Linked DNA regions of Homo sapiens. The protein of the gene in region 3 interacts with the protein of the main gene of each other region in a pairwise test. Each region holds a gene or a part of one and is shown on either strand. Other genes may lie near its edges. The genes, in order: FAM222B, PROP1, SMUG1, ZIC1, PATZ1, KRTAP8-1 and GLYCTK.

What was found.
Region 1: the proteins of SMUG1 (region 3) and FAM222B interact in binary tests that used the Homo sapiens proteins (3 or more experiments, as listed by UniProt).
Region 2: the proteins of SMUG1 (region 3) and PROP1 interact in binary tests that used the Homo sapiens proteins (3 or more experiments, as listed by UniProt).
Region 4: the proteins of SMUG1 (region 3) and ZIC1 interact in binary tests that used the Homo sapiens proteins (3 or more experiments, as listed by UniProt).
Region 5: the proteins of SMUG1 (region 3) and PATZ1 interact in binary tests that used the Homo sapiens proteins (3 or more experiments, as listed by UniProt).
Region 6: the proteins of SMUG1 (region 3) and KRTAP8-1 interact in binary tests that used the Homo sapiens proteins (3 or more experiments, as listed by UniProt).
Region 7: the proteins of SMUG1 (region 3) and GLYCTK interact in binary tests that used the Homo sapiens proteins (3 or more experiments, as listed by UniProt).

The regions. Positions count from the first base shown.
Region 1 is NC_000017.11:28,839,783-28,844,532, forward strand, and holds the start of FAM222B (protein FAM222B), read right to left. Parts: upstream 3,009-4,750; 5' UTR 2,900-3,008; intron 1-2,899.
Region 2 is NC_000005.10:177,993,412-177,998,234, forward strand, and holds the start of PROP1 (homeobox protein prophet of Pit-1), read right to left. Parts: upstream 2,832-4,823; 5' UTR 2,523-2,831; coding exon 2,414-2,522; intron 928-2,413; coding exon 695-927; intron 1-694. UniProt on the Homo sapiens protein: Possibly involved in the ontogenesis of pituitary gonadotropes, as well as somatotropes, lactotropes and caudomedial thyrotropes.
Region 3 is NC_000012.12:54,182,671-54,186,474, forward strand, and holds part of SMUG1 (single-strand selective monofunctional uracil DNA glycosylase), read right to left. Parts: intron 1,290-3,804; 5' UTR 1,271-1,289; coding exon 986-1,270; intron 1-985.
Region 4 is NC_000003.12:147,407,853-147,412,591, reverse strand, and holds the start of ZIC1 (zinc finger protein ZIC 1), read right to left. Parts: upstream 3,228-4,739; 5' UTR 2,480-3,227; coding exon 1,498-2,479; intron 75-1,497; coding exon 1-74. UniProt on the Homo sapiens protein: Acts as a transcriptional activator. Involved in neurogenesis. Plays important roles in the early stage of organogenesis of the CNS, as well as during dorsal spinal cord development and maturation of the cerebellum.
Region 5 is NC_000022.11:31,335,977-31,340,220, forward strand, and holds part of PATZ1 (POZ-, AT hook-, and zinc finger-containing protein 1 isoform long C), read right to left. Parts: intron 2,046-4,244; exon of another isoform or gene 1,692-2,045; intron 1-1,691. UniProt on the Homo sapiens protein: Transcriptional regulator that plays a role in many biological processes such as embryogenesis, senescence, T-cell development or neurogenesis. Interacts with the TP53 protein to control genes that are important in proliferation and in the DNA-damage response.
Region 6 is NC_000021.9:30,811,861-30,815,107, forward strand, and holds KRTAP8-1 (keratin-associated protein 8-1), read right to left. Parts: upstream 1,415-3,247; 5' UTR 1,361-1,414; coding exon 1,169-1,360; 3' UTR 837-1,168; downstream 1-836. UniProt on the Homo sapiens protein: In the hair cortex, hair keratin intermediate filaments are embedded in an interfilamentous matrix, consisting of hair keratin-associated proteins (KRTAP), which are essential for the formation of a rigid and resistant hair shaft through their extensive disulfide bond cross-linking with abundant cysteine residues of hair keratins.
Region 7 is NC_000003.12:52,293,265-52,296,473, reverse strand, and holds the end of GLYCTK (glycerate kinase), read right to left. Parts: 3' UTR 1,217-3,209; downstream 1-1,216.

The DNA.
Region 1 (4,750 bases), on a different chromosome or scaffold from region 3:
AAGTAAAAAGGTTAAAATTATACATCACTGTGCATTTCCAGGAAAGAAAAGTGAAACACATTTTACCAGACAGAGAAGTTAAAAACAACCAGGTTCATTTTTCCCATTCCTGTAAATTCACTCCCCTTATTTGTGAATCTTCAAGAATCTAGTATAGCCCCTCCCTACCTTTACTCAGGTAAAAGACCAATCACTCATCAATTGCCAAAACGCCTTGACAGTTTAAGGTCTCAATCCTCAGAGTCAGCAAAGCTGAAGTGTCTATGTCCTTTTAAAAGGAGTCTGCATCTCTACTTTAGAAACCATTTTCTCACTGCGCTTGGTGGCTTACGCCTGTGATCCCAGCACTTTGGGAGGCCGAGGCAGGCGGATCACCTGGTTCGAAACCAGCCTGACCAAAATGGCGAAACCCCATCTCTACTAAAAATACAAAAACTAGCCGGGCATGGTGGTGGGTGCCTGTAATCGCAACTACTTGGAGGCTGAGGCAGGAGAACTGCTTGAACCCGGGAGGTGGAGGTTGCAATGAGCCGAGATTGCGCTACTGCACTCCAGCCTGGGCGACAGAACAAGACTCTGTGTCAAAACAAAATAAAATAAAAAGAACCCATTTTCTCTTTCCATAAACACATAGTTTGTCCTCTGCTTTGTCTACATTAAAAAACACGTCTCAGGAGTGTTTCTTCAGCCTCTCAGGAAAACCAAGACACCTCTTGGGCTCCTCTTCTGAGATATTCCACCTGAGAGATCCCACTGACAAGCAGGGTAACAAAAAGCAGAGCTAGAGGGCTGCCTTATGCATATCTGACCTCCAAAACAGCGACAGGTCCCCGGAGCAGCCAGAGACTCCTTTGCAAAGGAGAACTTTTTATAATTTAAAAATAATAAAATGGGCCAAGCACGGTGGTTCACGCCTGTAATCCCAGCACTTTGGGAGGCTGGGGCGGGCGGATCACCTGAGGTCAGAAGTTTGAGACCAGCCTGTCCAGCAATGGAGAAACCCCGAGTGTACTAAAAAAAATACAAAAATTAGCCGGGTATGGTGGCACGTGCCTATAATCCCAGGTACTAGGGAGGCTGAGGCAGGAGAATTGCTTGAACCCAGGAGGCGGAGGTTGCAGTGAACCAAGTTCGCACCACTGCACTCCAGCCTGGGTGACAGAGCAAGACTCCTTCACCCACCTCAAAAAAAATTATAATAAAATAAAATAAAAATAAAGATAACAAAATAGCCAGGCACGGTGGCTCACGCCTGTAATCCCGGCACTTTGAGAGGCCGAGGTGGGTGGATCACCTGACGTGAGGAGTTCAAGACCAGCCTGGCCAACATGGTGAAACCCCATCTCTACTAAAACTACAAAAATTAGCCAGGCGTGGTGGTGGGCATTTGTAATCCCAGCTACTCAGGAGGCTGAGACAGGAGAATCGCTTGAACCCGGGAGGCGGAGGTTGCTGTGAGCCGAGATGATGCCACTGCACTCCTGCCTGGCGACAGAGCGAGACTCCGTCTCAAAAATAAAATAAAATATAATAAACAAATTATATTTTCACATCCCTCACTGGGCAGCCCTCCCAGCTTGTCTCAAACTAGTTTTCTTAACTCTTTTTTCCAGACGGAGTCTCGCACTGTCACCCGAACTGGAGTGCAATAGCACTATCTCGGCTCACCGCAACCTCTGCCTCCCGGGTTCGAGTGATTCCCCTGCCTCAGCTTCCCAAGCAGCTGGGATTACAGGCGCCCGCCACCACACCCGGCTGATTTTTTGTATTTTTAGTAGAGACGGGATTTCACTACGTTGGCTAGGCTGGTCTCCAACTTCTGACCTCGTGATCCGCCCGCCTCGGCCTCCCAAAGTGCTGGGATTACAGACATGAGCCACTGCACCCGGCCTTTTCTCAACTCGTTAAAGCACATTAGTGCCAACTGTGTTATAAGGCAACATGAGTTAGCTATGTTCAGAAAATATTTTAATAGATTGGCCCTCCATCCTTTCGGGTGAGGAGCTGCAAACCGTTTGTAAAAACGCCGGAGTACGGTATTTTTCCTACAGAAGTCTGATGGCTAATTTATCACATTACAGAACTGGTAGTTCTGCACATGGTCTGCTGTGCCCATAAAGAAAGCACATATGTGTCTACTGAGGTTTTACAAACAATACGCTTCTTATCTTAACAGAGAAATCAGTCATTCCATTAACAACGGTAAGGTCTAAATTCCACTAACATTGTTGGTGATACATTAACATCAACATAGTACTTACAATTCACAATTTGCATAAACAATCTCAATTACATAGGTGATGCTTGCAATAGCCCGTTTGAAGCATGACATCTTCCTGGTGTTCAGAAAGGTTAAGTGGGACCTGCCCAAGGTTACCTAACAGCTTTATCAATGGTGGACTTCCTTTCGAACCTGCCTGACTCTAAGCCCCTAGCTCTTTTCCCTAGACCCCTCCCGGCTTTCAAAAGAGGGTTCCCGACTCCCATCCTCTACCCAGAGCAGCCTATTACTCCGGGAGACCGACCCTTCCCCTGCCTGGTTCAGAGGTGGCTTCTTAAGCTCCAGCAGAGCTTTCATCCTCCACCACCCTCCCCCCGCAATCATTCTCTGAAAGAAGCGGAAAGGAGAGGCGACCAAAAGCTCCTGGAGGAAGGGATGATACAAATGGGCTGCTTCACTCCACAGCACGCAACCCCGTCCCCCTCCACCAAGCTGTCCAGCTCTGCGGCCGGCGACCGGGCCACCCGTGCCCCAAATTCTCCCATCATCACCTCAAACTGTACCTCCCCCACGCCCTTCCGTCTCCCACAGTCAGAGCCCACCCCACAAAGTCATGTATCCTTCCGCTAAGTTACCCTCTTCCCACGCGTTGTCCACTCCCCCTCCACCACTACTCACGGTCGGTGACTGGGCCCGGCCCTCATGGCTGCTCCTTTGCCGCCCGCCGCCCGCCGCCACCACTTCTCCACTGCCCGGCCCCTCAGTCACCGGCGCAGCTGTGGGGACTACCCGGAGCCGCTCCTGCGCCTGCGCAGCGTGTAGCGCCTGGGCCCTTTCGGGCCGCACGCGCCTGCGCAGCCCCTGCCGGGGGCGTCTTCCTCAGTGCCTGATGGTCTGGACCCCTGGGTCTCTAGTGGACATGGGAGCTGGCCTTGAAGAATTCTGAGGCTTAGAGAATTTGGCGGCTGCCTCAGGGTACGCCTCTGGAGTACCGTGCCTAGGTTACTAAACCCTTGGATCGCGCTTCCCCAAGGAGCCACAGACTTACTGGCTCTTCCAGAATTCTGCATCCTACTTGCACTTAAAGGCCTGAATTCAGGTGCTCTGAGGTGACCACTGATGATAAATTTGGGTCTTTTTTTTTTTTTTTCTGAGTCGAAGTTTCGCTCTTGTTGTCCAGGTTGGAGTGCAATGGCGTGATCTCGGCTCAAACAACCTCCGCCTCCCGGGTTCAAGCGATTCTCCTGCCTCAGCCTCCCGAGTAGCTGGGATTACAGGCATGCACCACCACGCCCAGCTAATTTTGTATTTTTAGTAGAGACGGGGTTTTATCATGTTGGTCAGGCTGGTCTCGAACTCCCGACCTCAGGTGATCCACCCACCTCAGCCTTCTAAAGCGCTGGGATTACAAGCATGAGCCACCGCGCCCAGCCTGGGTCTTTTTTTTTTTTTTTTTTTTTTGAGACGGAGTTTTGCTCTTGTTGCCCAGGCTGGAGTGCAGTGGCGCGATCTCAGCTCACTGCAACCTCCGCCTCCCGGGTTCAAACGATTCTCCTGCCTCAGCCTCCTGACTAGCTGGGATTACAGGCTTGCACCACCACGCCTGGCTAACTTTTGTATTTTTAGTAGAGACGGGGTTTCACCATGTTGGCCAGGCTGGTCTCGAACTCCTGACCTCAGATGATTCGCCCGCCCCGGCCTCCCAAAGTGCTGGGATTACAGGCCTGAGTCACCATGCCTGGTAAAATTTGGGTCTCTTTCAAGATGATCGTGTCTAGAATGTATCGGGGGTAATTATGTAAAGGCAGCTTTGCCATCCTAGAATACGCTACTAGCTAGGAGGTGCAATGAAGTCCTGGGGACCTTGTCAAGGAGGTGACCTCGCCTAGAATGCACTGGGGACACCGCTAAGTTCAGTATGTTTATCAAGCACATGCTGTTTATTGGACAGAAATGTTCTAGGCATCGCGTGTATGCTATTGAGGAATTCGCAGGCAAATAGTCCCCTGCTTTCCAGCTCTCACTGTGAGCCTGGCCCTTTTTCAAACTGGTAAAAGAAAACCACTAAAGTCCAGTGAGGCCCAACTGTCAGTCCCTAGACTACTGTGCTGCTTTGGCATAGCCTGACAAGAGACTAAGCTCAATCGAGTCCTGAGAATTCAACAAAACAGACTTGAAAGCAGCAGGCAAGAGGAGGTACAGGACTAAACTCTCTCCTCATCACCATGGCTCTTTTTTCTCTCTCAACTCCAGCGCTGGTCTCCTCTCTTCAGAGTTTGGACACATAAGGCCCAAGATACAACGTAAGGGGGAAAAAGAGAAGAAAAAAAGACAAGTTGAGTGCTCAATGAGGAATGTTAAAAAAATTTAAATAGGCCAGGTGCAGTGGCTCACGCCTGTAATCCCAGCACTTTGGGAGGCCGAGGCGGGCGGATCATGAGGTCAGGAGATCGAGACCATCCTGGCTAACACGGTGAAACCCCGTCTCACTAAAAATACAAAAAATTAGCCGGGCGTGGTGGCGGGCGC
Region 2 (4,823 bases), on a different chromosome or scaffold from region 3:
ATTTAGGGTAGGGTTTACACTTAAGGCTAACCAACCCTGGGGTTAGGATTGAGGGAGCATTTGGCTCATTGAGTTTCAAGGCTATGGTTAGGGACAAGCTTCTGTAAGAATATGGACAGTTAGGATTGAACTTCTGTTGGAATTGGCATCACTATTTTTTTTTTTTTGAGACAAAGTTTTGTTCTTGTTGCCCAGGCTGGAGTGCAGTGGCATGATCTTGGCTCACTGCAACCTCCACCTCCCGGGTTCAAGTGATTCTCCTGCCTCAGCCTCCGGAGTAGCTGGGATTAATTATAGGCACCTGCCACTATGCCTGGCTAATTTTTTGTATTTTTAGCAGAGATGGGGTTTCACCATGTTAACCAGGCTGGTCTCGAACTCTTAACCTCAGGTGATCCATCCAGCTTGGCCTCCCAAAGTGCTGGGATTACAGGTGTGAGCTATTGTGCCCAGCCGGAATTGGCATCACTATTAAATATTGAGGGTAGGTGTTGAAATTCAAGTTAGATTAGCTTATAGCTAGGGTTAAACTCAAGTGATATGATATTCTCAATGCAGTTGCTCTGATGCTGGTGGTGAGATGAGGCCTGTGTCTGGTGACCATTTAGGTTAGGGTTATAATGCCCAACATTCTATGATAGCACCAAAGAAATCTGCATTTCTTTCCTGAGAGAGGAGGATCCTGGAGCATCACCTGGATTCGGGCCTCACTGAGGCCAGTGTCCCGGGCAAGACTCTCTCGGGCCCAGATGTCGGGGTACTGGTTCCTCCCAAAGGCTGACTCCAGCTGTTCCAACTGCACTGGGCTGAAGGTGGTGCGGTGGCGGCGCCGGGAGTGCGGGCGGCCCCTCTGTCCTCCTTGCGGGGAGAACCTTGATCTCCCCCCTCCTGCACCAGGGAGCCTTCTGCAGGGTGGAGCACTCGAGTCTGAGAACGGAGAGAAGGGAGGGGCGGCTTCTGAGGAGGACGCTCCTCGGTGCTGGACCACATGTGCCTGTCCCGGGATTGCGCTCAGTGCGTCCTGTGCTGCTCCAGTCTTTTTTTGAGACAGAGTCTTGCTCTGTCTCCCAGACTGGAGTGCAGTGGTGTGATCACAGCTCACTGCAGCCTCGAACCCCTGGGCTCCAGTGATCCTACTGCCTTAGCCTCCTGAGTAGCTGGGACTACAGGTGCACACCAACATACCCAGCTAATTAAAAAAATAAAAAATTAGAGATGGGGTCTTGCTATCTTGCCCAGGCTGGTCTCAAACTCCTGGCCTCAAGCAGTCCTCCCATGTCAGCCTCTCAAAGTGCTGGGATTATAGGCCTGAGCCACCGCACCCAGCCCTGCCCCACCGGGAATCTTTTAGCTGCCATAGCCTGGTTCCTGCACCCTGCTCAGCCTCGGCCCCTGGTTGCCTCTGAGTCTCTGACACCAGGCTGTGCTGTCTACACAGGGCACACCCTCAGACTCATTCCTGGCCCTGGCACTCATGCACTGTCTACCTGGCAACTCTACTGTCTGCCCACTTCCTATTGCACTGCCAGACACATACCCCTCCATGTACGTTCACCCTTCTGGACACACACGACCACCTGGGGCTCACCCTGTGGGTCTGCTGTGTGCACCTGCACCCTAACAATCGTCCCAGCTGTCTACGGAAGACCCTAGTGCTTGTCCCCTGCTGGCGAGGCTCCTGTTCAACCTGTGCCTTCTTCAGACTGCTGCCATCTCCCGCACCCCTCACCTGGGAAGATGGGCACCCCCCTCTTCCGCTCAGACACACCCTCCCCTACTTACTTTTCATCTCCTCCCTACCCCTGCCCTGGCCCAGCCACCAGGCTGCAGGAACTTGAGCTCGTGGGAAAGGCTTGCCTTCCTCCCCACAGGCTCCCTAAGCCCCCACACTAATTAGTCTGAGAGCTGTTGGGGAGGAGAGAACGGGGAGGGAAAGGACACACCTGGAAGGCGCACACCAAGAAAAGATGTCTGGAGCCGAGGCACCATCCCCATGGGGCCCAAGGGCGTGGACCCTCCTAGAGCTCACTGTCCACCATGGGGGACACACACACGGAGCCCGCCCTCCCGCCCTGGACCCAAAGCCCTGGCCCCTCCAGCTCCCTTCATCAGAGAAGGCAGTGGCTTGGGCTAACCAACTCTGAGGTCAGGAGTGAGGGGACAGAGGTAACTGTCTCACATCCCCACTGCAATGTGAGCTGTTCAGCCGCCCCCTCCTGCCAAGGGCTCAGTTCCCCAGTCTGTAAAGCCAAGGGGTGCTCCAGTCCCTTTTACTTTCAAAGGTTCCCACAGTTTTAACATGATAGGATTCGGGTTTTAATTTCTCCTCCTAACCTTCTTCATGGAGCCTATGCTTTCAGCCTCACACCCGCTGCCTCCTCAGGGACCCACGCACACCGGGACGGTCACTCACCCACCGTGGTGGTCGGGGTCCCAGTGGCCGGGTGTCTCTCAGGCAACAGGTTGCTGCCGACTCGCCCCTTCTTTGGCTTCTCAGCCTGGCGCCTCCTTTCTGCTTCCATGGCTCGCCACGGGGACCAAGTGTCCCTGAATCTCTGACTTGAGATTTCTCTGCTTCCGCAGCTCCTCTCCACACCTGTTCCCTCCCCTTCTCCCTCTGTGTATGCCACCCTCTGGGACTCTGTCTCTGAATGTGTGTGTAGGTGCAGGCAGCTGTCTCTGACTTTTTCACTGTCTTTACTTTTTTTCTAATTGTTTCCTAATTCCCCCTTCCTTGGCTTGAGTGTCAGCTCAATCTCCTGCCTCAGCCTCACCTGTTGCTCTGTTTCTGACTACTTTTCTCTGCCTGGCCCTTCTCCCCACCGGGATGCTGCTCCCTTCTGTCAGCTGCCTACTTTCCCATCCCACCCCTGAGTCTTGGAGGAGTGACCTCCTCCTCGCCCCTGTGGGCCCATCCAATCACTACACGGTCACCAGAGCCCCCTTGCTCAGGGAGGATCACAAGCCGGATGAGGGAAGGTGTTCTGTCGGAGGGTCCAGGGACTGGGGCCAAGGGCTCGTATTCCCAGAGGACCGGATTCTTTTGTCCTGTTAAATCCCCTCCTGGGAGCAGGCAGGGGGAGGAGGAGAAAATGCATTCCTCCCGAGACCCCCTCCTCACAACCCCACTGTGGGGAGAGGAACGAAGAGCAGGGGAAAGGGACCCAGGAGTGGAGCCTGCCTGGCGTCTCAGCATGGGGGTGACACTCAAGGATCTGCTTCCAGGAAACTAAAAAAGGAGAAGTCACAAGTGCATGCTGGCCCCTCTCAGATACCCTGATAGTTCAGAACACACCAGCCAGTGCTCAGGCCAACCTGAACCCACTCCGGAGAATGGGCCTCCAGGACACCTTAGCTCTCAAGTACTTTCTGATTTCCTCCCTCAAACACCACTTCCTCATTCACCCAGAACCCCCAGGACACCATGACCTTCCAAGGTCACCCAGACTCTCCGAAAACCCTGACCTGAACATCTGCATTCCAGCTGCATCCTGACCCCCAAACCCACTCCAGACTCCAGGACTTGGAAAGAGACTGAGATTCCCGTGACATACTACATTCTGATTCTTCAAGAAAATCCTGACACCGGGAATCTCTGAGCAGTCAGGACAGCCTGGTCCCACAGTACTCTGCCCCTTGAGGTTACTTAGACCTGGGAAGTACATTCTGACATCCCCAGGACACTCTGACAGTTTAAGGATGATGCAACAGCCCAGGACCTTAGGATCCCCTGGGACACGCTGACACCCAGAACACTTCACCTCTGCTTCTCAGGATACACTGACCCAGTGAGAACACATGGACCCCCTGGAACACACTGTACCCACAGGACAGTCTGATTCCCAGGGTCATGCCGTCATACAGGTCCTTTAAAAACACGCTGGTGATTCAAGACAGGAAATCAGAATCCTTTAGGATTTCGATGCTTACCGTGTGGTCCATGGATCAGCAGCAGCAGCAGCACCAGCAATGGGAGCATGTTGGAAATGCAGATCCCTGGGCCCCACCTCCATTCTACTGAGTCACAATCTGCCTTGTATCAAGATCTCCAGGAGAACCGAGTGCACGTGGGTCTTAGTCAGCTGGGGCTGCCATGACAAAATAGCATAGACTGTGTGGTTTAAACAATAGACTTCTATTGCTCACAGTTCTGGAGGCTGGGAAGTCTAAGATCAAGGGGTCCGCCTATTTGGCTCCCCTGTGAGGGCTCTCTTCCTGGCTTGCAGGTGGCTGCCTTCTCTCGGTGCCTTCATATGGTGGAGAAAGAACCAGCTCTGGTTTCTTTTCCTCTGCTTGTAAGGACACTAATCCCATCATGGGGCCTCACCCTCATGAGCTCATCTAAACCTAATCACCTCCCCAAATCCCCACCTTCAAATACCATCACGTTGGGTGTTAGGACTTCAACGTAGAAATTTTGGAGGGACACAAACGTTTAGTCCATAGCAACGTAAAATTGGGAAACACTGCTCTAATTTTAACCCTTCTCCCCTACCCTAGGACACACTTTGACCTCCTGGAGCACCCTGAACCCCATGGCAGTCCTAACCTAGCAAGACCCAGTGACATGCAGTCAGCTTGGACTCACAAGAGAACACTGAATTACAATGCATCCTGCTGCCTGGGGTACCCATTCTGGCCCTGTCAGGTCCTTGAATGCTGAGGGCACTGAGGATGCATTCACTCTCCAGGACACACAGACCCTCCAAGAGGCTCTGACCTCTGTACCTTACACTCAGCACAACATCTTGGGCTCACAATCACTCTGTGACCCTCTAAGTCACCCAGACCATGAGGACATGGTGAGATTTGGGAAATTCTAA
Region 3 (3,804 bases):
GGCCCGGGCTCTGGACCAACTGACTTCTTTATACCTTACATGAGGATCCAGCCTGCACCCCCTACCCCTACCTTCACCCAAAGGCCTGAGACAAGGATTCTTGGCCCTATGGTTTGAGCCTGTCTGTCTTTTTCCAGTTCTTCATTGTGAACCGTGGTCCAGAAGAATTTGTTTCCCTCTAGCCCAACTAGCCTTTGGGACTAAGTACAGGGACTACATTGAGATATCTAGCCCTACACAGGGTTTGATGGTTAGTACTGGGGACAGACAGATGGTCTGAGACAGAAAGGCAGCCAGGGTTAAAGGAGGCACAAGGATGGGCTGACCACTGCTGTCTGGATGCCCTCTCAGCCCCAAGCCTCAGGCTGTCATTTCCATCGATCATCATTGATCACCTTTCATCACCCAGTTGGGGTCAATAAAAGCGATTGAGCCTTCTGCCCTGAAGCCTCTTCCCCTCCCCCACCTGCCAAGCACCCCCACTGGGGGCAGTCACTCATCCTGAGCCCTGAAAGAAAAGCGGGCAGGCACTGGAGCCAGGCTCTGTTTTGAACCTCGCCTTAGCTAGGAAACAGAACCCAGGTTCCCAGAACGCCCTGCATCTCTTACATACCCACCCCTGTCAACCAGTCTCTTCTGAGGACCCAGCAGTCCTAGTCCCTCTTCTGACCCCAACCACACTTCAGGGACAGGGGAGATCCAGTAAAGTAAGGATGGGGCTGGCGGAAGGAAGGGCTCTCAGAGGCAATTACTGGCCAGCTCACAGGGAAAACGAAACTACCATTAATGTGCTTGGTTAATTACGGGCAGAGACGCTGGGAGAGGGCCTCGGACCACAGGAGCCAGTATATGTGTTGAGACAGAATGGGGCGGGAGGACCTACACATGTCTACAGCCATGCACATGCTCCTTCTCCACAGCACACCCAGCCAAGCATCCACCTAGAACCCCCCACTCCACCCACTGGGGAAGCCAAACCCTTTACCCCAGTCTGGGCCATGCCAAAAGGTCCAGGGTTCATGCCCAGGAAGAGTACTTCCTTGGGGCCCTGGCAGTAGCGAGTCACGTAGTTGCGATGTGGCTCCCATGCATACTCCACGGGATTGTAGATGATGCCCACAGGCTCCGAAAACTGCAGCTGGCTCAGCTCAGCATTGAGCCGAAGCTCCTCCTCCAGGAAGCTCTCAGCCAAGCTTCCAGGGCAGGGCTGGGGCTCCATGAGGGCACCTGCAGGCTCATGGATGGACCCCAGCAGGAAAGCCTGGGGCATATGTCCATGCCGCTGTCACCTGGGAAAAGAGATGGACAGAAGCCCCATCAACCCTCAGCCACAGAGTAGGAGGGATCCATGCTTGCCAGGGCCCCCACTACCATTTCCTGGGCTCAGAAGGGACCCTAAGAGACCATGTCAGTCATCTACCAACCACCAAGTAGGACTGAACTCATCTCAGTTCTTGGTAATGAAGGGCCCTTTCCCTCCCCACTTCCATTATCTGTCCTCTTCACATGGCACCTGGTGAGGATAAGCCATAGCCACCAAACATCTCCCACTCCAAATCTCCTTTCCATCAGGCATAGGTCACTAGTTCCTGGGCTATGCCGAGCACATAGTAGGTTTTCAATAAACATTTACTGGTGGCATCCTTTCAGCACCTTTAAGGTCATCCTAAAAAAGAAAAGCCCAGCCAGAATGGACTGTTCTGGAAAGCACGGCGCTGAAGAATGAAATGCAAGTGCACAGCCACAGCCCAGAGACCTGGGAAGGCTAATTACAATAGCTTCCAGGTGGTGAGCGACTGCTCTGCACCAGGTACACCTCATTGATCCTCACAACAATCCCATGAGGTGGGTATTACTGCTCCCCTGTTATAAGTGAGGACACTGAGGCTTAGCAAGATTAAGCAACTTGCCCAAGGTCTTACAGTTAGTAAGTAATAAAGCTGGATTTGGTTGAGCCCAATCTCTCTGGCTCAAGGCTATGCTTTAACCACCCACGCCATCTTGCCTTAGATGGTTTGATCAGCCACCCTGCTAATTCTACAACCCCCTAACCCCAGCCTAGCTTCTTTCCCACACTCAGGAATACCGAGTAGGATGATTACAGACTCCTCATAGAATCTTACGAGCTACACAACCATGGCCAGAGCCTCAGGTTTCCACCTTCAAATACAAAGAATAATAATATCCACTTAATAATGTTGACATAAGGAAGGCCAGGCATGGTGGCTCATGCCTGTAATCCCAGCACTTTGGGAGGCCAAGGCGGCTGAATCACCTTAGGTCAGGCGTTCAAAACTGGCCTGGCCAACATGGCGAAACCCCGTCTCTACTAAAAATTACAAAAATTAGCTGGGCATGCTGGGCGTGGTGGCTCAAGCCTGTAATCCCAGCACTTTAGGAGGCTGAGGTGGGCAGATCACCTGAGGTCGGGAGTTCGAGACCAGCCTGACCAAAATGGAGAAACTCCCACCTCTACTAAAAATACAAATTAGTCAGGCATGGTGGTACGTGCCTGTAATCCCGGCTACTCTGGAGGCTGAGGCAGAATCATTTGAACCTGAAAGGTGGAGGTTGCGGTGAGCCAAGATCGTGCCATTGCACTCCAGCACGGGCAACAACAGTGAAACTCTCTCTCAAAAAAAAAAAATTAGCTGGGCGTTGTGGTGGGCACCTGTAATCCCAGCTACTCGGGAGGCTGAGGCAGGGAGAACTGCCTGAACCCGGGAGGCTGAGGTTGCAGTGAGCCAAGATCGTGCCACTGCACTCAAGCCTGGGCAAAAGAGCAAGACTCCATCTCAAAAAAAAATAAAATAAAAAATAAATAAATAAATAAATAAATAAATAAATAAATAAATAAATTTGCCGGGCGCAACAGCTCATGCCTGTAATCCCAGTACTTTGGGAGGCTGAGGCAGGTGGATCACGAGGTCAGGAGTTCAAGATCAACCTGGCCAACATGGTGAAACCCCGTCTCAACTAAAAATACAAAAATTAGCTGGGCATGGTGGCACGTGCCTGTAATTCCAGCTACATGGGAGGCTGAGGCAGGAGAATTGCTTGAACCAGGACCTGGGAGGCAGAGGTTGCAGTGAGCCGAGATTGTGCCACTGCACTCCAGCCTGGGCTACAGAGGGAGACTGTCTCAAAACAAACAAACAGACGTAAGGATGGAATGAGATGTTATGTTTAGGTGAAGGGAGAAAAGAAATGGGAGAGGAAGAAGAAAGGGAAGAGAGAAGGGAGGTGGGAGGAAGGAGAAGGGAGGGGGCAGGAACATGACAGCAAGCTTTGTAAACTGCAAAGGCCATTGCTTCACTCCACTCCCATTCAAACCCAGTGTTCCAACCTGACCATTCTACTCACATTTTCAAAATGCCTTTCCTGCCTCAACTCCCAAAACCTTGCACATACCATTTCTACAGTCCAACCAAATACACTCCTGAAGTCAACCAGGACATCATCCAGCAGTCATCCAGTCAACTAGGACTGTTGATTCCCCAACCTGTCCACATATCCAAATCACTCCCATCCTTCAAAATGCAGCTCAAACCATCCCTTTGATAAAGTCTTCCCTCCTCAGAACACTGCAGTATTTGCCATAGTGTCCCAACCCCACCCCCAACACAAGTAGGTCCCGTGTGAGGCCTGGGAATCTGTGTTTTTTGTTTTGTTTTGTTTTGTTTTTTTTTTGAGACAGAATCTTGCTCTGTCGCCCAGACTGGAGTGCAGTGGCGCGATCTCAGCTCACTGCAACCTCTGCCTCCCGGGTTCAAGTGATTCTCCCACCTTAGCCTCCTGGGTACT
Region 4 (4,739 bases), on a different chromosome or scaffold from region 3:
GTGCTTCTTGCGGTCGCTGCTGTTAGCGAAGCGCCGGTCACAGCCCTCAAACTCGCACTTGAAGGGCTTCTCCCCTGGTGCCAAAGTAGAATGAGAGGGGTCTAATTAGAAAAAAATACCGCGGCCGTTTTTCAAAAACTAAACAAATAGAAAAAAAATAAAACAAAAAGCCAGCAGCCCAGGATTAGCACTTTGCAAGCTTAAAAACCCGGAACGTCAATAAATTCTTACATCTGCAGTGGAATTATAAATATCTTAACTCTATTGTAATCCCTAATACAATTGGATCTACATTTTATTTTTATGTTTAAAAAAATTAATAGTAGGAGGAGTCGGTTTTTAGCATCAGATCTGGAAACTCGTATTACCCAGAGCTACACACGATTTCGGATTGCTTCCACCTGGCTCCTGGTTTCTAGTTTTCACGTTTGCGGCTTATTCTCCTGCCCTATTGCTTTTCTCTCCTCCCCCTGCCCCCTCCCCGACGCTCCGCATCCCCTGGTCGCCTCCTCCAACCCACCCCACTCCCTACATACACTCACATTTTATAGCGTAATCTGGGCCGGAGAGAACTCAACGCCGCAAATTCTTCCCTGACTCGGGCGTTAAACCCGAAGTCTCAAGCATGGTTCTCAGATCTCACCCGGGAAAATCAGAATAGGAAAGGAGACCCAGTTCCCGGCCTCTTGGGGGCAGGGGGCCCAGAATGTTTTGTCTGATGCCAGGCTACAACCCTGAGCTCGTGGGAACTTTTTTTTTTTTTAACTGTTCCGGACCTGTGTCTTGATTATTTTTAAAGGCCAAAGAGGGGAATCTGGTGTTTTGAAAACACCCTCATGGAGTCTAATAGACAACAAGTTCTTCCTTGCCTTCCTCGGACTTTCTCCACCCCTCAAACCCACTCTTAAAACCAGTCACTACTAAAACTGAACTCTTCAAATATGCATAAAGCTCCAAAAGCCTCCTCAATCCCAAATTATTTCCTTTCCCCACTCTGTCTCAATTCTTTCTGTCTCTGTTTTGTTTCTTTCTACGCCCTTAACCCGGCCTCCTCAATTTCCTCAGCTCTTTCCTTTGGCAAAGTCCTCAGTGAAGTGCACGGAGAGAGATGTTGGCAGCAAGCAAGGGTTTAGATTTGTCTGCAGCCTGAGCAGCTGGCGCCTCCGCGGCTGCCGGGAGCCAGCCACTTTCTCCGGCTTCGAAAGCACCAAGGTCTCCGCCAAACCAGGTTTGGCTTCCTGTTCTCCGACCTTTTTTGTTTCTCATTTAAAAAATCTATATACCCAGCTCCTCCTCGTCCGCCCTGTGTGTGTGTGTGTGTTTTCCATAATTTCAAGCCAGAAACTAAAAATCAGCGCACACTTTCCCTGCCTGCCTGCCGGAACCTGACGCCCGGGATCCCACCGAGGCTGCGTTTGTGCGACCTGGCCGCTGACTTTCGGTTTGGGTCCCAGGCCCAAGTGGGAATGGGTAGGGGTCCTACAGCTGTTTCCGTACCTGTGTGCGTCCTTTTGTGGATCTTTAAATTCTCGGAGCGCGCGAAGACCTTGCCACAGCCAGGGAAGGGGCAGGGAAAGGGCTTCTCGCCCGTGTGCACGCGGATGTGGTTAACCAGTTTGTATTTGGCTTTGAAGGGCTTGCCCTCGCGCGGACACTCCTCCCAGAAGCAGATGTGATTACTCTGCTCCGGGCCACCTACGTGCTCCACGGTGACGTGCGTAACTAGCTCGTGCATGGTGCTGAAAGTTTTGTTGCACGACTTTTTGGGGTTGGCCAGCTGCTCGGGCTCGATCCACTTGCAGATGAGCTCTTGCTTGATGGGTTGGCGCATGTAGCGGAAGAAGGCGCCGGCGCCGTGATGCGCGGCCATGTTCACGTTCATGGGCCCGTAGCCGTGCAGCTGCGGCGCAGCATAGTGCTCCGAACGCGGGCTGGTCACCTGGCCGTACTGCTCCGGTCGCGGGTACATGTCCCCCGAGAAGCCGAGCCTCATCTGCCCGTTGACCACGTTAGGCGACGCGTGGCCGGCAGCCTGCTCGTGAAGCCCGGGGAAGAGGAGGTGGCCCGCGGCGTCCGTGTGGCCGTGTGGGCCCCCGAAGCCCCCGGCCGATGCAGCAAAGAGGCTGTGCTGTGCGCTGGCTGCCGCCGCCGCGTCGCCAAAACCCCGGTTGCGGAACAGAAAGTCCCGCGTGGAGTTGAAGGCTGCGCTGGAATAGGAGCCGACGTGGCCCGGGTGATGGTGATGGCCCAGGGCCGCAGCAGCCGCGTAGCCTGGCGCCTGCGACGTGAAGGCCGTCTGGCCGGCCGAAGCCAGCTCGTGCGAACTGGGGTTGAGCTTGAAGGCGCCCATGCCGTCGGCGAACGGGTTGATGCCCAGGCCCACGTCTCGTTCGGCCACGTCGCCCGCGGAGTGGTGGCGGGACGCGCCAAAGGTGGTCACGCCGATCGCTGGGTACTGGGGGCCGGCGTCCAGGAGCATCGTGGCTGCTCGGGGCGAGCCCCGGCCTCCCCCGCCCCCCCCACCCTCGCCAGCCGAGGAGGGAAAATCGGGAGGAGGAGGAGGAACAAGAGGAGGAGGAAGAGGAGGAAGAAGAGGAGGAGGGAGGGGGAGTCGACCCACCTCGCGAAGTCCTAGCCTGCAGGCAATGGCGCGGCGCGCCCGGGCGCTGGCCGGGCCAAACGCAAAGTAGCCGGACGGCTGCGGGCCGCGAGTAACGCAGGCTCCAGCGCCCGCCAGGCAGATTCTGCCGGCCCGGCTCGCACTTTCTCGCCGCTCAGTCTCTGCCGAGAGGGCCGCGCGTCAAGGCTGCCCGGGGAAAGGCATGGAGCATCTCAGCCCCCTAAAAAAAAACTTCCTCCTGGATTTGTAGCATAGAGGAATGTGAGCGCCAGTGCCGCGACTGCTTCGCCCTCTCTCCGCCTCGCGCAGCGCGCCCCTCCTTACTTCTCCACTAGCCCCTCGCCCTTTCTTTTCTCTCTCTCTCCTTTCTCTCACGCTCGCCTCCTCGCTCCTTCACTCTCCGTTTTTCCCTCTCTGCTTTTTGAAAAAAAAAAAAAAAAAAGTGGGTGGGGGGGTGAAGAAAGAAAGAAAAAGCCAAAGAAAAGGCGCAAATCATGCACAATATTGTCTTTTGCGGTTTATCTTCCTGGGGAGAAACTTTCACCTCCTCAGCCGGGCGGTGAGCGCGAGACTGATAGCAGCAATCATTCCTGCAGATAAATGAATTGAAAGGACGACACCGTCCCCCCCTTGATGAATGGGAGCAGGGGGGAGGTGTCACGTGCTGCCGACGCTGGCGCCCATTGGTGCGCCCGCATTCCCCCCGCCCTCAGCCGCCGCGCCAACGGAGGGCGCGCCGAGGCGCCGCGCGCAGCTCATTGGCCCGCCCGCCTCATCAATCCCAGGTATTGTAAAGCGCTTGACATCCCCTTTTGACAAACCAGGGCTGCCAGGAGTAGCAACTTTTTTTTTAGCCAAATTTTTTCCCTCTTCTCACGGAAATTTTTTTTCTTTTTTCTTTTCTTTCTTTCTTTTTTTTTTTTTTTTTTTTTTTTTGCCACGATTACTTTTCCTTCTCACAGTCATATGCATTCCTCTTCCTCCTTTGCCCTCCCGCACCCCGGCGCTGCCCTTCCCGAAACCAACTTTTCGCTGAGCGATTAGAGACTTCAGACGTCTCCGGGTGCAGCAGGCGGGGATGGGGCTAGTAAACACAGCAAAGGCACTTCCAGAATGTCCCGATTCAGCAACTTTCTTTTCTTTCTTCCCCCTTCCCCCCTCCCTTCAAGAGCAGCAAAAGAGGCTTTTGTTATTTGCTCCTTTTGAAGTTTGTTTCCCTCTTGCTTTGTCCCCCTCCTGTTTATAATTTAAGATCTTGGGAGCACACGGGCACTATGCTCTCTTTACAAAAAAATGTAATTTCTCAGTGTAACCGGCAGCCTCTGTATTTCTCGCTTTTATCTAATCAGACTTCCGGCACCACCGCACCCCCCTCCCCGAAAACACACACACACACACACTCACACACACAGGTGGATGAAAGCGCTTAAGTTCCCAGGTTATTGAGGTTTGAATTTTTTAATGGCAAATTTGAAACGTTGTTGCCAGTTTCCTTTACTTTTTCTCTCTCTTGCGTTATTTTTCTGTTTTCTGCCTTTCCGTTGTCTCCTTCGACTGCCCCCGCTAACCCTGTCTCTCCTCACTCCTGTTCCCTACTTGGGCCCCTTTCATTCAGGTAAAACTGTAAATTTCCCAACGCGCTATTGTTCCCTTGGGCTGCCCAAAGCTCCCTAGAGATCCCCGAATACTTTTTCGGTATTTAAATCCCCAATAGATAGGACCAATGTAAATTTTGTGACATTCAAACCTTTTCTAGTTCACAAATCAGTCACCCTTGTCACAGTTATTGAAATTCCGCAACTCGCCACACCAGGACGGTGGAAAAAGCGGGCGCGGTCTTTGTTGCCGACCAGGCTTTTGATCGCCAGAGAAAATTTACTTACCTTCAGATGAGTGAGCAGAAAAAGAAATAACACTCCCTTTGATTTAGTTAGGAAAATGCAGACATTTGGATTCAGTGCAAACATACAACACTCGCTTGTTTTCGCGATGCGGCCCTCGATTAACCTGTCTTTGCCTAGCGCAAAGTCTATTCAACAACTGCGCGTAGTTTCTTTTTGTCCCTTCCACAAAGAGCCATTGACTATATATTAAAATGATTGTTGAAAGGTAGGGGAGT
Region 5 (4,244 bases), on a different chromosome or scaffold from region 3:
ATAAAGACAGCTTTAGAGTTTGGCTCAGGCTCCCTACCCAGAATGCCAAGAGGCTGCTCTTATTTCCCATGGTACCTCCTTACGGGACACTTGAGTGGGAATCACTGGTACTAACTAAATGACTACTGGAAATGTACCCAGGACATGGCAAGCTAAGCTCTATACCCCTCTACACAATGAAGAGTTACACATTTGCTCATCCTTAGACATTAAGAATTGACTTTAGGTGCATTAGCTATAATGCACAGAATTACATTTACATGAATTTACAGATGAGTTATTGGCATATAAACCAGCCTTCCTGTTCTGTATCCCTGGGTTTCCCCTAGTTTTATACAAAGAATTATATTTGTTCATTTTATTCAAAAGTGACATTAGTCTTGGCCAGGGAAATGGAAAGGAAAGGCAGGACAAAGTGCAGAGATAATTATTCGTAATATTTTCACGAGTTTGAATTGAAAAAGCAGCCCATTAAATGATAGTGGCAATTCTGACGACATGAGAATTAGCAGACAGCAAGGGCCAGAGGCTTCAAAAGTGTCTGTGGGCCGGGTGCGGTGGCTCATGCTTGTAATCCCAGCGCTTTGGGAGGCCGAGATGGGTGGATCACCTGAGGTCAGGAGTTCAAGACCAGCCTGGCCAACATGGTGAAACCCCATCTCTATTAAAAATATAAAAAATTAGCCGGGTGTGGTGGCAGACTCCCGTAATCCCAGCTACTTGGGAGGCTGAGGCAGGAGAATCACTTGAACCTGGGAGGTAGAGGTTGCAGTGAGCCAAGATCGTGTCACTGCACTCCAGCCTGGGCAACAAGTCAAGACTTCCTCTCAAAAAAAAAAAAAAAAAAAAAAATCCGGGCGCGGTGGCTCACACCTGTAATCCCAGCACTTTGGGAGGCTGAGGCGGGCGGATCACGAAGTCAGGAGATCAAGACCATCCTGGCTAACACGGTGAAACTCGGTCTCTACTAAAAACACAAAAAAATTAACCAGGCATGGTGGCAGGTGCCTGTAGTCCCAGCTACTCGGGAGGCTGAGGCGGGAGAATGGCATAAACCCGGGAGGCAGAGCTTGCAGTGAGCCGAGATCACACCACTGCACTCCAGCCTGGGCAACAGAGCAAGACTCCGTCTCAAAAAAAAAAAGCATTTGTGAAACGTTAAGCTGGGGAAGTGCTGGTGACAGCAAGGATGATGATACTACCCTGTATTGATTAAGCATTCATTGTGTGCCAGGCAGGCACGGTGCTCAGCCTTTTAGAGGCACTTATCTCATGCAACCCATCCTGACAGCAGCCCTCCGAGGCAAGCTGTGTGATCACCCTCCAAGACAGCGTGGCTTTGGAAAGCTGTGGTGTGAGCTGAGCACCAACTCACAGCCAGGCCCCCGGGGTTGGATGAGTCAGGAGCTGAAGGTCAGAACCAGCACCCTGGAAGGAGGACTCAGGTTGGCAGGCACTTCCTGTACCTGAGCACCTGACTTAGTACCAGTGATCAGTCTCCTCACAACATCCCTTCCTCAGCTGGAGCTTACAAAGGCATTCCAGCTGTGGGGGTCATAGAATATTGGGAAAGCCCTGAGAAGAGCTGAATCCGTTGGCTTTCAAGCTATTTTGGTTCCAGGGAGGTGTTTCATGGGTTCTAGTCAATTTTGACTCATTTCTTTTGTGTGTGTGTGTGTTTACTGTTTTAGAACTGTAAGAGAAAGCAACATTCACCTTTGTGTCACAGATCAAATGGTAACCCACTGAAGACCACCCCATTACCTTGTGCTAGAACGGAACTGCCTCTGCCATCTCTCTTTAACAGAAGCACATCCTGAGAACCTGAGAGCTCAAGGTAAGTGGCTGAACACTGTCAACACATACAGACATCTAACTGTCTCCTTACTGTACAGCCATAGCAAGAAACAAACGCATGCAATGCTGTCAAGGTAGAAGACACCACTGTTTACTACCCCAGTCCCAAATATCTGTGTACGTTAGCACAGCCTACCTAGCTCTTCTGTCATTGTCTTTTTAAGTAAACATTATACATTTGAACTGAATTTGTAGCAATGACATACTGCTTTTATCTGTTTTATATATTCAGTGTATTCATATCATAAATGAGGAAACCTTCAGAAGGTGAACTTGCTTAAAACACAAGACTCAGCTACTAAAGAAAGTCTAGCACACCCACCCCCACCACACCCAGGCCAGTACTTTACCAATCCTCCTGGACACCCTGGGGGATTCTGATCTCTCCCAGTTTACAGCTGGGCCAGTGGAGGCCGTGAGAGGATATGAGACAGCTGGACTAAGAACCAGTCCCAGAGCCTGTGCTCTTACCATCTCCAGATTCAGGAGAGGGAGCTTCTGCTGAGTGAAAGGTGCTCATACTTTATAACACAGTGTACAGTACTTGGCAGCCAGGACTCCCAAAAGGGAAAGGTGAACAGATTTGTGCAAGGAAATTCCAGCATGTAGGAAGTCAGAAAGCACCATGGATGCTTGCTCTCATGGCCACATGTGGGCCCCACGTCAGCCAGGGACCTCATGACCCAGTGACAGGCCACAGTAGGAGAAAAAAACTCCTAACCTCTACACAGCCCAGCAGTCTCTAAACCAGAGCAGGGGCTGCATAAACACCCCCGGGAAAGAGAGGTACACCTGTTGATTTATTTGGGGACAAGAGCTAGCTTTGCCAGGCAGCGACCCAAAGACCACCCCTCCAATGGTGAGAGAGGGTGTGTTCTAAGCCTCAGAACTCAAAGGAACCAACATGGATCAGGTGTAAGAAAACAGGGCTGAGGCCAGGCGCAGTGGCTCACACCTGTAATCCCAACACTTTGGGAGGCCGAGGCGGGTGGATCACAATGTCAGAAGTTTGAGACCAGCCTGGCCAATATGGTGAAACCCCGTCTCTACTAAAAATACAAAAAAATTAGCTGGGCATGGTGGTGGGCGCCTGTAGTCCCAGCTACTCGGGGGCTGAAAGCATATTCAGGATTTTGTCTTCCACAGTCTCTGGGAGAGGGAGCCACAAGAGGGATAGGAAAGAGATGCCTTGTTTCTCTTGCCAACCTTCTTTTGGGATCTGTCCTCTAAAGGCTTTGCCTGTCATGCTTTGCTACCTAAAGATGATGGATAGCCAAACTTCAGTTACCCACAAGTGGCTTATCCATTTGGGGATTAGCTAAGCAAAATTAAAATCCCAGACTGGGCTGGCTTCCCCCACCCTGTCCTCCATTGATTATCTCTCAAGGAATGAAAGCTAACTTTCGCCTGAGCAAACAGAATTAGGAATGTAAATCTGCTGCTGGGGGAAAAAACACAAACATGACAAACGCTTTCCCTGTGTTCAAAGCCAAGCTGAAGTGATTGTTGGCTTCTCTGTGCCAGGATTGACCCTCTGCTGCTGCAGTCCCCAGGTTTTCTGGGGAGCCTGTGAAAGTCCAAAGTCTAGGCACAGCAGAAGTTCAGACAACACAGAACATGAAAGAGCCTGGTCACACAACCCAGGAGAGAAGGGGCGGAGGGAGACAGATCTCAAAGGGAACATCCAGAACTTCCATGCTGGGGTGTCAGGAGAAGAGCATTCTTTGTCCTAGAGACAGGGAGAAGACAGAGGGACGCTGATGGGAAGAGAGTGAGCCAGAGGCAGAATGCTTTGACTGCCTGTGGCACTCGGAAGAGCTGCCCGGCCCACAGCCCTGTGCTTAGTTAGACAGCCTGCTGTAATTAAGGGCCATGCCTGCCAGGTCCTGGCCCAGGCACCCTGAGTGCAGGTCATCACCACTCAACACTGAGCCCCAGTCCTGCTCCCTTCCCAGACTTCCTAAAGCTTTTCTTCCTAAGGATTGAGCAGCTTGGGAATGGGGCCCAAGTGGTACCAAGGGCACTAGTGCACACCCCCACCCTTAGTAGCCCTTGAACTCAGGCAGCCTCAGGGGTAGTCTCAAGCAGCTTTCTCCCACAGCCCTGGAAAACTCTAAGGGCAATGCATGAAGGTTCAGCTCCCTGGGCTCTTTGGCCCCCTTCTTCTCGAGCATATGCCCATCTCAACGCATTCCTTCTCTAACCAGCCCCCAAGAAGTGGAGCCCGTGGAAGCTAGGGAGGTCTGAGCTGCTCCAGCCTCTCAGCTTCAGGTTGAACTCCATGTGGGGGAAATGTCCCAGCCCACTAAGCTCATAAATCCAGCAGTACCTGGGGCATCTGGGCCAGTTAAGGACACTCAGGCCAAGTCCCAAAGAGACATGCCACT
Region 6 (3,247 bases), on a different chromosome or scaffold from region 3:
GAACCATATGCAATATAATCACTTGCACATATTCAATAAAAAAGCAGGGTTAAGCCAAATTTTGTTACCACCAAGAATATTTGTACTATACATAAGATGTTTTCAATAGAAGGATTGAGACTTTTTTTATCTGGCTTATAAAAGGAAATTGCTCCCTTCCCTAAAGGAACACAGAGAAAAGCTGATACATCTTCAGAAATATTCATTACAGCTCATATCTTTTAAGTGAAACTCGCTATCTGGTGTTGATTCTATAAAGATTAAGAAACTTGTCATGGTTGTGAATAACCCAGGTGCTTCAAAGCTACAAAATAGACACCTTAGATGGTTTGATATAGGGGATTTATCCCTTCACCTTAAAAACTCTCAGATTTCCAAAGGATGTCTGTGGCTTCTCTATTACTCAATGCTCCAGCATCCTTCATTAGGGGGCATGGCACTTTAGTCTATAATCCTTAGTCCCTGGGAAAGGGAACACAGTGGATTTCATTTGGACTAACATGGAAGTGACTGAAAAAGTTCCTCCTGTGTTGGGTTTTCTTGCGGAGGAGCAGAAGTAGTGAGATGAGAAGGGGACCCCGAGCAATAAATGGTGCTCCATTGGGTTGGAGGTGGGCATCATAAAATTTAAAGAAGGTTCAAACAGGCAACCTTTTAAGTCATTACCTGCAACCCACCCTCTTACCTGCTTATCACACAGGATCAGTAATTCTTTGCTTTCTGGCTGTTCCTAATGCCCACATGAGAAAAATAAATTCACTTCCCCCCCACCACCCATGTAACAGAAAATATGCACACACCAAGAAAGGAAACTTCGCTCTAGCATGAGAATATTATACCAGCTGAGACAAATTTATTGAGATTTTGATAGACATATCCATGACTTCATCACAAGTCATGAGTGTCATGGAAAATTCAAAAGTAGCTCATGACAAGTGGGAGGTCAAATTTCCGAAAATGTCCCAGAGAACATCAGCCAGGGGAGGCAGCTTGAGGAAGCGTCTGCTTTTTCATTTTCCTCCCCTGGGACTCGAGGTAAGTTGGAAAGCAGTGTCTCTGAGGTTGATGAGCAAATGAGGACTGAAGGAGTGGATACGGGGGGAACCTGGAGATGTGGGGCTCAGCCTTCAAGGGAGAGAAGATGCTACACCTCGGGGATTTCAGCCAATCAGTAGAGAGCAAATGGCGAGTATCTCCTGTAGCCGAAAGCCCCACAGCCGTTGTAGCCATAGCCGAAGCCATAGCCCACTGGAGAGTAGGTGCTGCCATAGCCACAGCCAACGCTATATCCCAGCGGGTAGCCATAGCTGCCCCAGTAGCATCCTGGGAAGACAGCCCCGGGGAAGTTGTCGCAGAGCATGGTGTCGGGAGTGGAGGGCTTAGGTAGCAACAGAGTGCGTTTCCTCAGTGGGATGGATTCCTAGTCTCAGAACCTTCTTTATATATCCCAGCTCTGGTGGGTGGTGAAAAACACAAAGCCCTCATTTTCATTCTTGACACCAATTTACATTCTAAAAAGCTCATTAACTTGTTTTGCTCTTGCTTATGATGTCTTTACAGTGGCTTAAGAAAGCTCTCGTGTGATGCAATACAGGGAGAAGATGCCTTTAAACAAATTATTTCCCTTCCTAAAAAAAAAAAAATTATTGCCAGGACTTCAAAGCACTCTGTCTTATAGACCCCATATAACTCTGTAAGCAGGTATATAATATCAAGAAATATTCTGAGGTTGTTAGCTGTTATGCAGTCCTCTTGCTCTCTGAATTTCCACAACACACAGTTGAAATTCAATAAATATGTGTTAAATACATTAATATATAAAATAACAAATGGATAGTGAGTCTATCTCAAAATTCTCAAAATTAAAGTATGTCTTAGTATTCACCTGCTTCAAGGATTCTCTTTTTTGGAATATGAAAGACAAGTGCAATGGAACTCATGAGAAAGAGTCTTTTTTTTTTCCTCTACTACAGCTACCGTGTTTGGGAAACTGGTTAAAAGTGTAATCTTAATCATAGTCCCCTCCTAAACTATACCTAACATCACATTTCTAGAAGACTACTTGAATTAATAGTATTGAGATTTTAAAACGGAGTATTTGGATTAATCCTTGTACTGAATTGTCAAACAAATTTAATTTTTTGGCCTGAAACATATTTCAAACTAAACATTGAAACTAATAAGGTAAACACAGAAAAATGAATTAAAAAATTTATTGTAAGATTTAAAATTTTTTTTCTCTTAGATCTAATGAAACTAGATTGTCTGACAAATGTGATGATATTATAAAGGGCCAGATGACAACATGAAATCAGTTATTTCACTTTTACAATGATCATGCACCCCAGGATAAAGAAGGAATGTTATTCCTTTCTAAACAGAGAGTCAGTTCTCAAGCATGAGTTAAAGGAGGGATAAGGCTGATCAAAACTATCTTGGATCATGTAAGACCTGATATATTATTCTCAGACACCTGCATTAAGATTTCTTACAGTGGCACTTAGTAGAGAACTTACAGAACAAATACCAAAGAGGGCATATGGAACAGAAATAGGCACAGAGATAATAGGAATCATTCTAGAAGGCCACAAAACAGATATGTATTACACATGAGCTCTCCCAGATTTTACTTCATAACCCAGAGGTAACTTTGCTCCCTGCTATCAGCAGCTAGGAATCAAAGGCTGAATCCAAGAACAAGATGAGACACTTGGAAAATTCAAAACCATGCCAGTGTTCTAGCCAGCAGTAGACTAATTACAGCAGAGGCATTTTTTTTAAATATAGATATATATATAATTTTTTTTTGAGGCAGAGTCTTGCTTTATTGCCCAGGCTGGAGTGCAGTGGTGCAATCTGGACTCACTGCAACCTCCACCTCCTTGGTTCAAGCGAGTCTCCTGCCTCAGCCTCCCGAGTAGCTGGGATTACAGGTGCATGCCACTGCGCCAGGCTAATTTTTGTATTTTTAGTAGAGACAGGGTTTCAGCATGTTGGCCAGGCTGGTCTCGAACTCCTGACCTCAAGTGATCTGCACATCTCGGCCTCCCAAAGAGCTGGGATTACAGGCGTGGGCCACCGCGCCTGGCCTAAATTTTTTTATTTTTAGTTTTTGTGAGTGCATGGTAGGTTTATATATTTATAGAGTACATAAGATGTTTTGATACAGATATGCAATGCGTAATAATCACATTCTGGAGAATGAAAACACCTACAGTACCCTGCTTCGTGAGCAAACCTGGATGGC
Region 7 (3,209 bases), on a different chromosome or scaffold from region 3:
ACCAAACTGTCCACTAGCTGCCCAGCCTCTGCCCCCACAAATCCTCAACACCCTGAGGCATTCCCAGAGACAGATGGGCTCAGTTACTCCCAACAGTGTTTGAGCCAGGGCTTTCGGCCTTGGTTCCAAAGCAGGCATCTAAAGGGTTCCCTGGGCTGGCTAAAGGCTTTGGAGCTGAGGCTGCATAGGGGAGGTGGGAGAGGGTCTCAGAGCCTGGTAATGCACCTCTCCTATCTGCAACCCCTTCCATCTCCTTGCATGCCCCCAACCCCCGCCCTCTGCTGTAAGGAAGCTGGCTCTCAGCATTAAAGTCCCAAAACAGCTTCATGACATTATTCCCTGCCAAAATCTTCATGAGGTTTGCCACTGATGTCAATGTGAAGTCAACTCCCTCGGCCAGGCACACTAGCCTCTGCCAGTCTTCTGGGCCTTCTTGCCCAACTTGCTCATTGTATCCCCTACACTCTAACTACACCTGTGTGTCTCCACCCTGGGATGGGGCACAGCAGAGCTCAGAGACTGGCTGTGGGCTGCACTACACATACACATGCTTATACATATATTCATGCACACGCACACATGCACACACACACAGATGTGCATACAGATGCAGACACACATTTATGTAGAAGCCCACCACTCAACTGCGCATGGTTTTCTGCCAAATCACACACACAATGGAGCTGTCCCTCTGAGACAAGAAGGTTCCAACACATCTGCTGTGTGGATCCCTGGAGAGGCCAAGCATGGTTGTGTCGCCATCCCAAGCCCTTGAGGGGCAGTGGGGAAGCAGAAGTAGATCCCCTGGATCTGGCTGAGCCCTTGCTTGGCCCCAGGGTATCTGAGCCCCAGAGAGTGGCAGAGGATAGTCAAGCAGGTTCCAACTAGGTTCTTACCCTGGTTCTGTGGCCCTTATGTGGGACTGTACAGTCCCCAGTAAGCCACCTTCTCTCTCTGAATCTCCAACTATAAATCAAACGCTTGGGACTAGCTGACACTGAAGGGCTGCCCAGGCCCACTGCCCCACTGCTCTTGGCTCATGCCAAGTGCAGAGAATGGAGAGGCCTGTGAGGGTTGCTATAGCCAGCAGGGCCAGACACCCTCCATGGTGAAATCCTCCAGCTGGGCCAGGGGAAGCTTCAGAAAATGACGATGAGGTGGGCACGAGGGCAGCAGCAGCCGGAAGAAACAGAAGCCAAGAGCAAGGGACGGGCACTTCAATGATCCAAAATTGACATTTATGGAGCAAGTAATGAATCCTATCAAAACATTCACTGTGCAGGGTTTTCTCATCTCAGCATTTAGACTGTGGCCAAATACATCCTTTCTTATCTCTGGGGTATCCAGTGAGCAAATCTAACGGGTTAGGCTCACAGACCATTTGGCCCTATGGGGTCCAATCCGGGCCCTGGCCTCCCAGCCCCTACAAACAGAAGTATAGGGAAGGGGTCAATGTAGAGCAGGGGGAACCTCCTGCAAGATCCTATCCATACCCAAAGCCCTCAGCAGGGATGCAGGGAGTCATGTGCCCTGTACTAAGTATCTATGTGTACACTCAGAGATGCATTCCCACTCTGAGTACGCCAACACCAACGTCTGTATACTCACACACCTACCACCCACACACACACTGGGGACATGGCTGCCAGGCCCTCAGCTCCTGCAGCCCCTGCCCCAGCTCTCCTATCCTGCTTTTGCCTGGAACTTGGAACCCAGTGCCAATACTCATGCTCCCAAGAGCAAGGACTGAGGCAGGAACAGGCTACATGTAGACGCTGCCAGAGGAGCACCACGGCACAGGATCATGCGAGGATCACCATAACCCCAGAGACTGTGACCCTAGTCAGCAGGAACTCCATGCCAGCACAGAAGGAAAGGAAGCGGTGCCTGCGCATCCCAGTGGGGTGCAAGCTCCCCTTTTCCTAAACCTCCCTGGTCCCCAGAGCCCGCTTACCACGTTTACCTCCCTCCCAATCTCCAGCCTGCCCTGTGTGAGCCAGGCCCCCAGGTCATGAACTGTCTGCAAGCTAGGCTGCCCAGAGCCCAGGTGGGGAAGGGAAACCCTTCCCAGGGGAAAGTCCTGCCAGCCCTGGCCCAGGGCCCCTCCACACCCTCAGGGAGGAGGGGAGGGTTGGGGTGGAAGAAGTGCCTGCAAGAGCAGCCCCAGGCCTCGCTGTTCTCTATGGCTTTTTATTCCTATGTGATTCTACTGCTCACTCATATAGGGATTGGAGCCGTGGCGCACGGCGGGGACAGCCAGCGGAGGGTTCTGACACTGAGCAAGGGGGCTCAAAAGGAGGCAGGACAGTGGCACCTCCCTCTCTCAACCCAGGCTGCTGGCCAGGCCAACACAGCCGTTCCTCTATTCCCACTTGCCTCTTCTCCCGCCAGTGGTCACAGGAAGAGGTGTGGGTCACTGGACCTCATCACTGGCTGGACCCACCATCCCAGTGCTGGGACCCCCACTGAAGGGCTGACTTCAGGGTCTGGACTTGGTCCCCAGAGGAGTGGCTGAAGGAACTAGGGATGTTCAGCCTAGGACAAGGGCTGTCACAAGGAAACAGCACTGGGGGGTGGGACAAACTTCAGCTCAACCAGAAGTGCAGTATGTGGCTAAGGGCTGTCCAAAGACAGAAAGGACATCCATCCAACGAGGCCTACAAGCTGAGGCTGGAGAAGCCATGGTGACAGTGCCATGGTGGAGTCATGGTTGGGTGGGTGGGTGGCTGGTCACCCCAGACTGCAGTCTTTAGGCCTGTCCTCCCTGGGGTCTCTGCTCACGCACATCAAAGCTGTCAGGAGCCAAGCTCAACCCTCACACACTCCAGAGGGATGGGCACAGGCTCCCGTTATGCGAGGCACATCCTGCACGTACCCAGCCCAGTAGAGGGGTGTTAAGAGTCCTGCCAGGCCCTGGTACTGTGGCTGCAGCCGTACCACGCTCCCCTCCCAGCGGCTCCCCCGTGAGGCCTCACTCTGAGGGAAGGCGCACTGAGAACCCATGGCATGGTCCTATTTATTTTCAGACATTCTCGCTTCACAGAAAGAAACAGGGTGAGGGGCTCAAGAGAGAGGCTGCCCAAGGGAGAAGCACGGGAACGCTGAACTGGCCGAGGGGCTTGTCCTCATCCTCAGGGGTAGGGGGAAGCCCCCATCTGCCAGTCTGGCTGGAAGGGAATAGATATAGAGCAGAGGCCCTGAGTGGAAGG